Linked DNA regions of Homo sapiens. The protein of the gene in region 1 interacts with the protein of each later gene in a biochemical or structural test. Each region holds a gene or a part of one and is shown in the gene's direction. Other genes may lie near its edges. The genes, in order: NEK6 and ERCC6L2.

What was found.
Region 2: the proteins of NEK6 (region 1) and ERCC6L2 form a complex in vitro, tested with the Homo sapiens proteins (one study listed by BioGRID).

Annotation. Positions count from the first base shown.
Region 1 is NC_000009.12:124,327,271-124,331,089, forward strand, and holds part of NEK6 (serine/threonine-protein kinase Nek6), read left to right. Parts: intron 1-67; coding exon 68-175; intron 176-3,819. UniProt on the Homo sapiens protein: Protein kinase which plays an important role in mitotic cell cycle progression. Required for chromosome segregation at metaphase-anaphase transition, robust mitotic spindle formation and cytokinesis.
Region 2 is NC_000009.12:95,882,045-95,885,863, forward strand, and holds part of ERCC6L2 (DNA excision repair protein ERCC-6-like 2), read left to right. Parts: intron 1-3,819. UniProt on the Homo sapiens protein: Promotes double-strand break (DSB) end-joining and facilitates programmed recombination by controlling how DNA ends are joined in a spatially oriented manner during repair.

The DNA of each region.
Region 1 (3,819 bases):
CTCTCGTCCTGCCCCACCTACCCCAAGCCTCCTACCCCACACCAATCTCCTTCTCCTCGCCCTGCAGACATCAAGCCTGCCAACGTGTTCATCACAGCCACGGGCGTCGTGAAGCTCGGTGACCTTGGTCTGGGCCGCTTCTTCAGCTCTGAGACCACCGCAGCCCACTCCCTAGGTAAGGGGGACCTGTCTGTGCCCCAGCAGCCCCCAGCGGTCCTGGTGACCATGCAGGGAGACGCAAACATTCTCCCCACGTGTGTTTGGTCAGTTAGTGCAGGAAGATGCCTTTTTTAAGCCCCAGGGTTTTCTCATCTGTTCAGAATAGTGACCCAGAAGGGAATCAGCTGTGGCCAGAGGAGCCCAGCTGGGGCTTCCCACACCCCCTGATCACCTCCCAGCCCTTGCGGGAGAAGCTGACTGAGCCGGTTGCTTGGAGCAGGGGGCGTGTCTGTGGCACAGGGCGGTCATCTTCCCACTGCTGTGAGTGTCCCGTTCACGGGCAGCACCCTTGGTCCATCCCTCCTAGGGGGTGGACATTTGCACTGTTCCTAGTTTCTGGCTTTTAAACTGGCGGTTTTGAGGCTGTGGGGACCAGGTGCCTGCCAGGGAGGAGGTGACATTGTAGCTGGACCATAAAGGGAGACCAGATGCTGTTGGGACAGGGAAGGGGAGGGAGCAGCGTTCCAGGAAACAGTGGGTGAGCCTCGGTGTGCGGCTGAGCTTGGCTTTGCCACAGACCAGGGTCCTTGCAGGAGTGGCATGAAAAGCGGGCAGGGCCTTGAACTCTGAGCTCAGTGGGCTGGACACCACCCTATGGGTCGGGGGGTGCTGAAGGGCTGGACTCCGGAAGAGACTTGGTCAGATGTGTTTTGGGGACAGGTGAAGCAATGGCAAGCTTCAGTATCCACACACTGGGTATGTAACCAAATGTGAAACTTGGAATGCTGTACGATGGGGGATTTTTCATTTAGTGAGAACAAAGGAACCAAGAAAGCCCCCGCTTCCCCACCAGTGGAACACAGGAGCAGGGTCTCCTGTGCGTTACTACAAGGCTGTCTGGGTTTCACCACGCCCATCTGTGGGAACATTTCCCAGAGGCCCATGGAGTGGGCGAGGGCCCCTGCTTTCTCAGGGCTATTTCCTGGCTCTTTGAGGTGTGTTTGCAGTGGAAGGTGCCCCCAGGCCCACCCCCTGTGTGCTGTGCCCACCAGCATCCGCTTCCCCAGGAGGGGGCTGGGCCCCAGGAGCTGCCCGCCGCCTCCTTGAACACCGCCCCATTCCAGCTCATTTCCACCCCACTCCATGGCTCAAGCCAGGACGTCTCCTATCCCCAGACCCCCGAGTGCCTGCGGCAAGCGGGGTGTGAGAGACAGCAGCATTGTCTGGGCGGAGGCACTTTCTGGAAGTCACAGTGTCTTGTGGAAAGTGTCACTGTTCATACAGGTTCCAGAGAGACTCTCAGCGCGTCACACACACTTAGGAGAAATGTACGAGCCTAGAGACCAGCGACTCCCAGCAGCTGATGGAGCCAGCGGGGCTGGCGGGGAGGGGGTTGTTTTGAAACTCTTGTCCCCACCTGGCCAGGCCTCAGGAGCTCTTCCTTTAGCTCCAAAGGGAAGATGTGTAGGGACCCACCCCCCAGGGAGTATGGGACGTTCCACTCATGCCCTTGACAGCCCCAAGCATCCAGCCATCCTTCCCTTTAGCAGAGGAAGAATCAGAAATCCAGGCGCTCGAGAGATTTTTCCGAGGTCACATGGCAGCAGGCCTCTCCTTCAGAACCCACGCTGCTTCCAGGAAACGAGGGCCGGGGGCCTCGGCAGATACCGTTGGAGTCCCCCTTTGGGGACCCGGGCCACTGACTCTCCGTTGCTGGAAGGAAGCCTCGTCTTTCCTTGTCCCCTCAAACATTTACTTCCCTTGTGAAAAACCAAGTGTTTCGGTCAGTTTGGGACTGTTTACCTGTGTGGTTGAAGGGCTTCGAAAAGACCAGGAAATTCAAGGGAAGCTGTCAAAGAGAAGAGTTAGAACCGCTGCGTCCTGTCCCCCGTCAGTCAGCACCGAGCCTTTCTCTGTCCCACTGCAGAAAAAAGACTGTGGCGCTCCGTCAGAGAGGGTTAGGATCGCATCATTAGGAATGGGCAGAGATGCGTCTCATCCGACAGTATGATTTTATTGACTTGGACTGGTGCACTTATTATATTAATGAGAAGGAATTGGAACTTGGGAGAAGGCCGCCCTCATAAGCCGGGCTCTTCCCAAGCCCTCCGAGCGCCGACCAGGCCACATGATGGGTGGAAGGAGCCCTCCTGGGGCCTGTCCCCACTCCGGGCTCTGTGCCCGGCATCCAGGAGAGATGCCCAATGAGCTGAGGCCTGCACGGAGCTGAGCAAGTCCCTGCCAGCAGGACAAGCTCCCAGAACCAAGGGCCTGCACCCACCAGGTTCTAGAATGGTGACAGTGCCAAGCTAAAGCCCAGGACCTGTATCTCCAAGACCCAGGGGAAAGACCCCTTCCACCAAGAGGTTCTGCAAACAGCTAAGTCTTGCACACACGTTTGGTTGGGCAAGAGATTGAACTAATTACCATTGCATCGTGACTCAGGAGGGGCACAGGGGCCAGGGACACTTCACGCCCTGTGCGTGGGGATGAATTATGCATCTGCCGCATCTCATGTGCACCTACTATGTGGGGATGCTGTGGTGGCAGCCACGTTGCCCCAGCAACCACCTCATCTCCTAAGGCTGCTGACCCAAGAGCTGGGCTTATGCAAATCTGGTCTCCTCCCACTTCCCCCCTCCCTGGGCCCCCTCCCCGCCTCTGTATTTGCTAACACGAGGCTGGCATGAAAGGGCATTAGTCAGTGCCATGGTCGGGCTGACAGGTGCGGTACCCAGCGGTGGCAGAGTGGCTGCCTCGGTGTCAGAAATAGGAGCCGTAATTAGAGCGCGGAACAGAATGAGCGTCAGACGAATTACCAGGCAGCAGATCATATTTGTCAGGAAGGATTGCATACATAAAAATTAAGTGACAGTACACGCCGGCGTAATGCAGGAAAAATGAAAGATTTGCCTATACACAGCTCACAAGCTACAAGCAAGTGTCTCGCTCCGAGCAACGGCAGCAGCTGCAAGACAAATCACGGGGCTGGGAGAGCGGGCGGGCAGGCCTGGCTCCTCGGCTGTAGTGACAGGACAGTCTCGGTGACAGGCAGCCACGGGTGACAGGGCAGGAAGGGCGGCTGGTCACACCCAGGCCCATGCAGGGCCCGTGCTGCCTCTTGGGGGCTGGGAGAGCAAGTCTAGTTGGGGGTGACCCCATCAGGTACTCGAGGTCACGGCCCTGCTGGGTCTCCCAGGGCTTAGCCTGGCGCTGAGGCGCAAACCCCTTCCTTCTTCTTCCTTGAGCAAACTGCCTGGCCCTGGGCTGTGTGCTGGGGATATGCGATTATGCAGCTTTCGAGGGGACAGACACAGTCCATGCCAGGTGGCATGGTGAGGGGACAGGTGGGACTGCCTCTTGGGGCCCACTGTGGGCAGGCAGGGCAGGCGTGGGGCTCTGTGATTCTATACAGAGCCCCAGGGAGCCCAGGGTGGCTCCACCCCTCCCAGAGCCGCCCTCACTTCGTTACTCTGTAGCCACTGAACTCACTGAAAAGATGAGTTAAAGACGGAGAAAAAAGAGTTCAAAAAACATTTTGTTTTTTCGTTGGCCAGGCGTGGTGGCTCCCGCCTGTGATCTCAGCACTTTGGGAAGCCGAGGCAGTCAGATCACTTGAGGTCAGGAGTTTGAGACCAGCCTGGCCAATATGGTGAAACC
Region 2 (3,819 bases), about 28 Mb from region 1:
CCTTGTGGGTTCTTGGCCTCAGTTTCTTGTGAGCTGTTGGCTGGAGGCCTCCTTTGCTTCCTTGACACATGGACCTCTTCATGGGGCATCTCACACAAGGTAGCTTGCTTCATAAAAGGAGAGCAAGTAGGAGGGCAAGAGACAGCACTAGTAAAACAGAAGTCATAGTCTTTGGTGATGTAATAACACAAGAGACATCCCTTCACTTTTGTCACATTCTTCTCATTAGAAGCAAGTTGCTAAGTCCAGCCAGAACTCAAGGGAAGGAGATTAAACAGGACTGGGAATATGAAGAGGTGGGTATTATTGGGAGTCCTGTCAGAAGCTGCCTGCTACAGGGTCTTTAGCTTTCCTTAGATTTTCAAAGAGGTTTGTGATCCAAGAAGAATAGAGTTTTGAATCTAGATTTTATACTAAACGATCACTTTAGATTTTCAGGAGTGTGTGCCTAGTTTGTGATTAAGTTATTCTGCTTCCTTTCTTATAATTGAGTTTAACTTATTTTCTTCTTCATATTACCTCCATTAGTTATTGGAACTCAAAGGTTTAAGTGGAAAACTAAATTTAACATTTATAAATAGCCAAATTTCAGACACCAATGATGGAATAAGGAAAAAGAAAAGAAAAAAAAAATAGCCAAATAATGCTACTGTGTGTAAAGGTCTGGTGTGAAAAACTAGGCTAAAATAAAGTCTTTTAATAATCATATTACCATTAACCATACTCTATGTTCCTTCAAGCCTAGGCAGTGCAGATAGTTTAGACATGCACACTGGACGTGCTAAATGATTGTTTGTGGAATAAATGAATTTACCTTCTTCGTTTATTCCACAAACTATCATTTAGCATGCCGGCCTGTAGGTGGAGGATAGACAGCAAGAATAAAGAAAGGAGCCTTCAAGAAATTACCTCTGAAACTGACCCAACAGTCCCACAGACAGTTTTGTTTGTTTGTTTGCTTGTTTTTGGATAAACATAGAAATTGACCCTTCTGGTCCTAAAGCTTTAAACTTGTATTTGTTTTATCTGAGTTCCTTCCTCAGGAAAGGACCCCCAGGCCTCTCAAAAAGTATCAAAGAACTGAAACTCACCAGATCGTAGAATTCAGACAGTGAGACACCAGGCCTCTCATTCATCAGATTACTTCCTTAGCCCTCCCAACTTCCTGTTTTCCCATACATTGTTACATTTCTTCTCTGCTGTAAAAACTCCTAATTTTAATCAGGGAGATGGATTTGAGACTGATCCTTGGCTACAGTGCCTGATTAAAGCATTTTTCCTTGGCAATACGTGTTGTCTCAGTGATTGGCTGGCTGTATGGTGAGCAGCAGGTCTTAGACCGAACCCGTGGTGTTTCAGTAACGCCATCTGTGACCAAGATTACAGATGAGTACTAGAGGAAAATTAATAAATTAATTAAAGCCCTGCTGTAACTGTTTTCGCATATACTTCTACTGTTTTTGCCTGTGGTAGAATGTTTGTTACCACAATTCTTTGATTAGCCAGTGCATGTTCAACTTCAAAATAAACATGAGGCTGGGTTTGGTGGTTCACACCTGTAATCCCAGCACTTTGGGAGGCCAAGGCGGGCGGATCACGAGGTCAAGAGATCAAGACCATCCTGGCCAACATGGTGAAACCCCATCTCTACAAAAATACAAAAATTAGCTGGGCATGGTGGCCCACGCCTGTAGTCCCAGCTACTTGGGAAGCCAAGGCAGGAGAATCTCTTGAACCTGGGAGGCAGAGGTTGCAGTAAGTCGAGATTGTGCCACTGCACTCCAGTCTGGCAACAGAGTGAGACTCTGTCTCACATACAAAAAAAGAAGAAACATGAGGGTACTACATACAAAAAGTGATCTGTTTGGGAACCACCATCCTGCAGCTTAAATACAATTCGAATTCAAATTCTTGCGCACATTTTAGTCTCAAATTTGAAGGCTGTCTTTCATCTCTGAGGCCCATGTTACAAAGAAATTTACTTTATTTTACAGTTCATAGGATTATTTTTAAAGGAGCTGATTTTACTGCAGAATTTTCTATTCCTGATACACTGTAATCATTGAAGGACTTGGAGATGTTCTGGTACATGCTGTTAGTGTGCTGTGCAAGTCTTTGAGGGAGTACCGTCTGAAGATTAGGAAATGGTTTCTGCACTAATTTTGATACTCAGATGGATTTGTCTGATGCTTGGGGACCTAGTTCTCTGGTTACTGTTGTTGTAACTCAGGGAATAATTTCTACATAGATAGGTGGTTTGAAAGACCCATTTAAGGTAGAGCTTCTATAGATAGATAAAGCTTCTATAGATATGACTAAGCCAGTTGAAGAAATGTGAATGATTACTGTGTTAACTAAAATTTCAGAATGTAGTAAAATTAATTGATAATGAAAATAGACCATTGACATTTACTGTTTGAGCTATAGTTTTATCTTCTTTTCTTCTTTTTTTTTTTTCCTGTTTCTTGATTTCATCCCTTTAGTTTCCCCCTTTTTATATTCTAATTTGGCCATGATATGAAACTGAAGTCTTTTTAAAGCTTGTTTTACATACCAAATAAAGTTTCCTTCCCTCATTTCAAATTTAAAAGTAGGTGAATTTAATATTTTACACTCTACAGGGGATGAGAATTGAAAAATGTCCATTTGTTCTAGTGACATAGAAATCATTGGTATGCTGAGCAAGAGCCATTTTGCTGGAGCTTTCAGACACAAGCCATAATGGAGTAGGTGAAGACGTGGACATAGAAAGAACGTATATTTACCTCTTTAAGAAATATGGCTTCGAAAGGGAATAAAAGTGACCTAGTAGTAGGTGAAGAGAGAGACGAGAATTTGAGGGGGTTTCTTTTTTGTTTGTTTTGTATTGTTTGGGGGTAGGAAAGACTTGAGTATTTTTAAGGTGAATTGGAAGGACAGATCTGGTGAAGAGGGCACAGATAAATATGCAACATACATAATGATATGCCCACATATACATGTACTTCTGTAAACACACACACAAACATACATATGCAAAAAATGGAGTCACATAATAACTACTATCTTATAAGCAGGTTGCAGATTTTTTTTTGTCAAAGATTATGAACTAATTTTTCCCGATACCTTCTGACATTTTTCTAAAACATAGAAGAGTTAAAAGAATGGTACAATGAAAAGCCATATTCTCACCACTTAGATTCTGTTAATATTTCATTATACATGGTTTTGTAATATCCATCCATCTTTTGTTGCATTTTAAAATAGCAGACATTAATACATTTTATCCCACATACACATATCCAAGAAAAGATCATCACAGCCAAGACGATGAACATGTCTATCACTCCTAGATTTCCTCATGTCCATTGTGCCCTTGATATGTTCAACACCATGCAGTTCATCACCTACTATTTTTGGTTTTAGTGGGACTGAAAAATTAAAGATACTTGAGGAAATTTTAATACAAAATCCAAGATTTTTATGACTATCTCCCAATATTTCACAGAATTTTCACATCTAATTCAACAGGTAACTTGAAAATGAATCCCTTTTGTACATTTACGTGATAATTAGCTAGTTTAAGTACAATAAACAATTTCACTGGAGTATACAGGTTTGGGAACCTGACCTTTGGTAATCAGACAACTCAGTGATAGGAAAAGAGGTGAGTGGGTGCTTACCATGGAGTAGTGGTTCTCTAAAGTGGATATTTGGGTCAGCAGCATTAGTGTCACCTGGGAACTTGTTAGGATTGTAAATTCCGGGGTCTCACTGCAGACATACTGAATTGTGAACTCGGTGGGAGTAGGAGAGGATGGCAATCTGTGTTTTAACAGA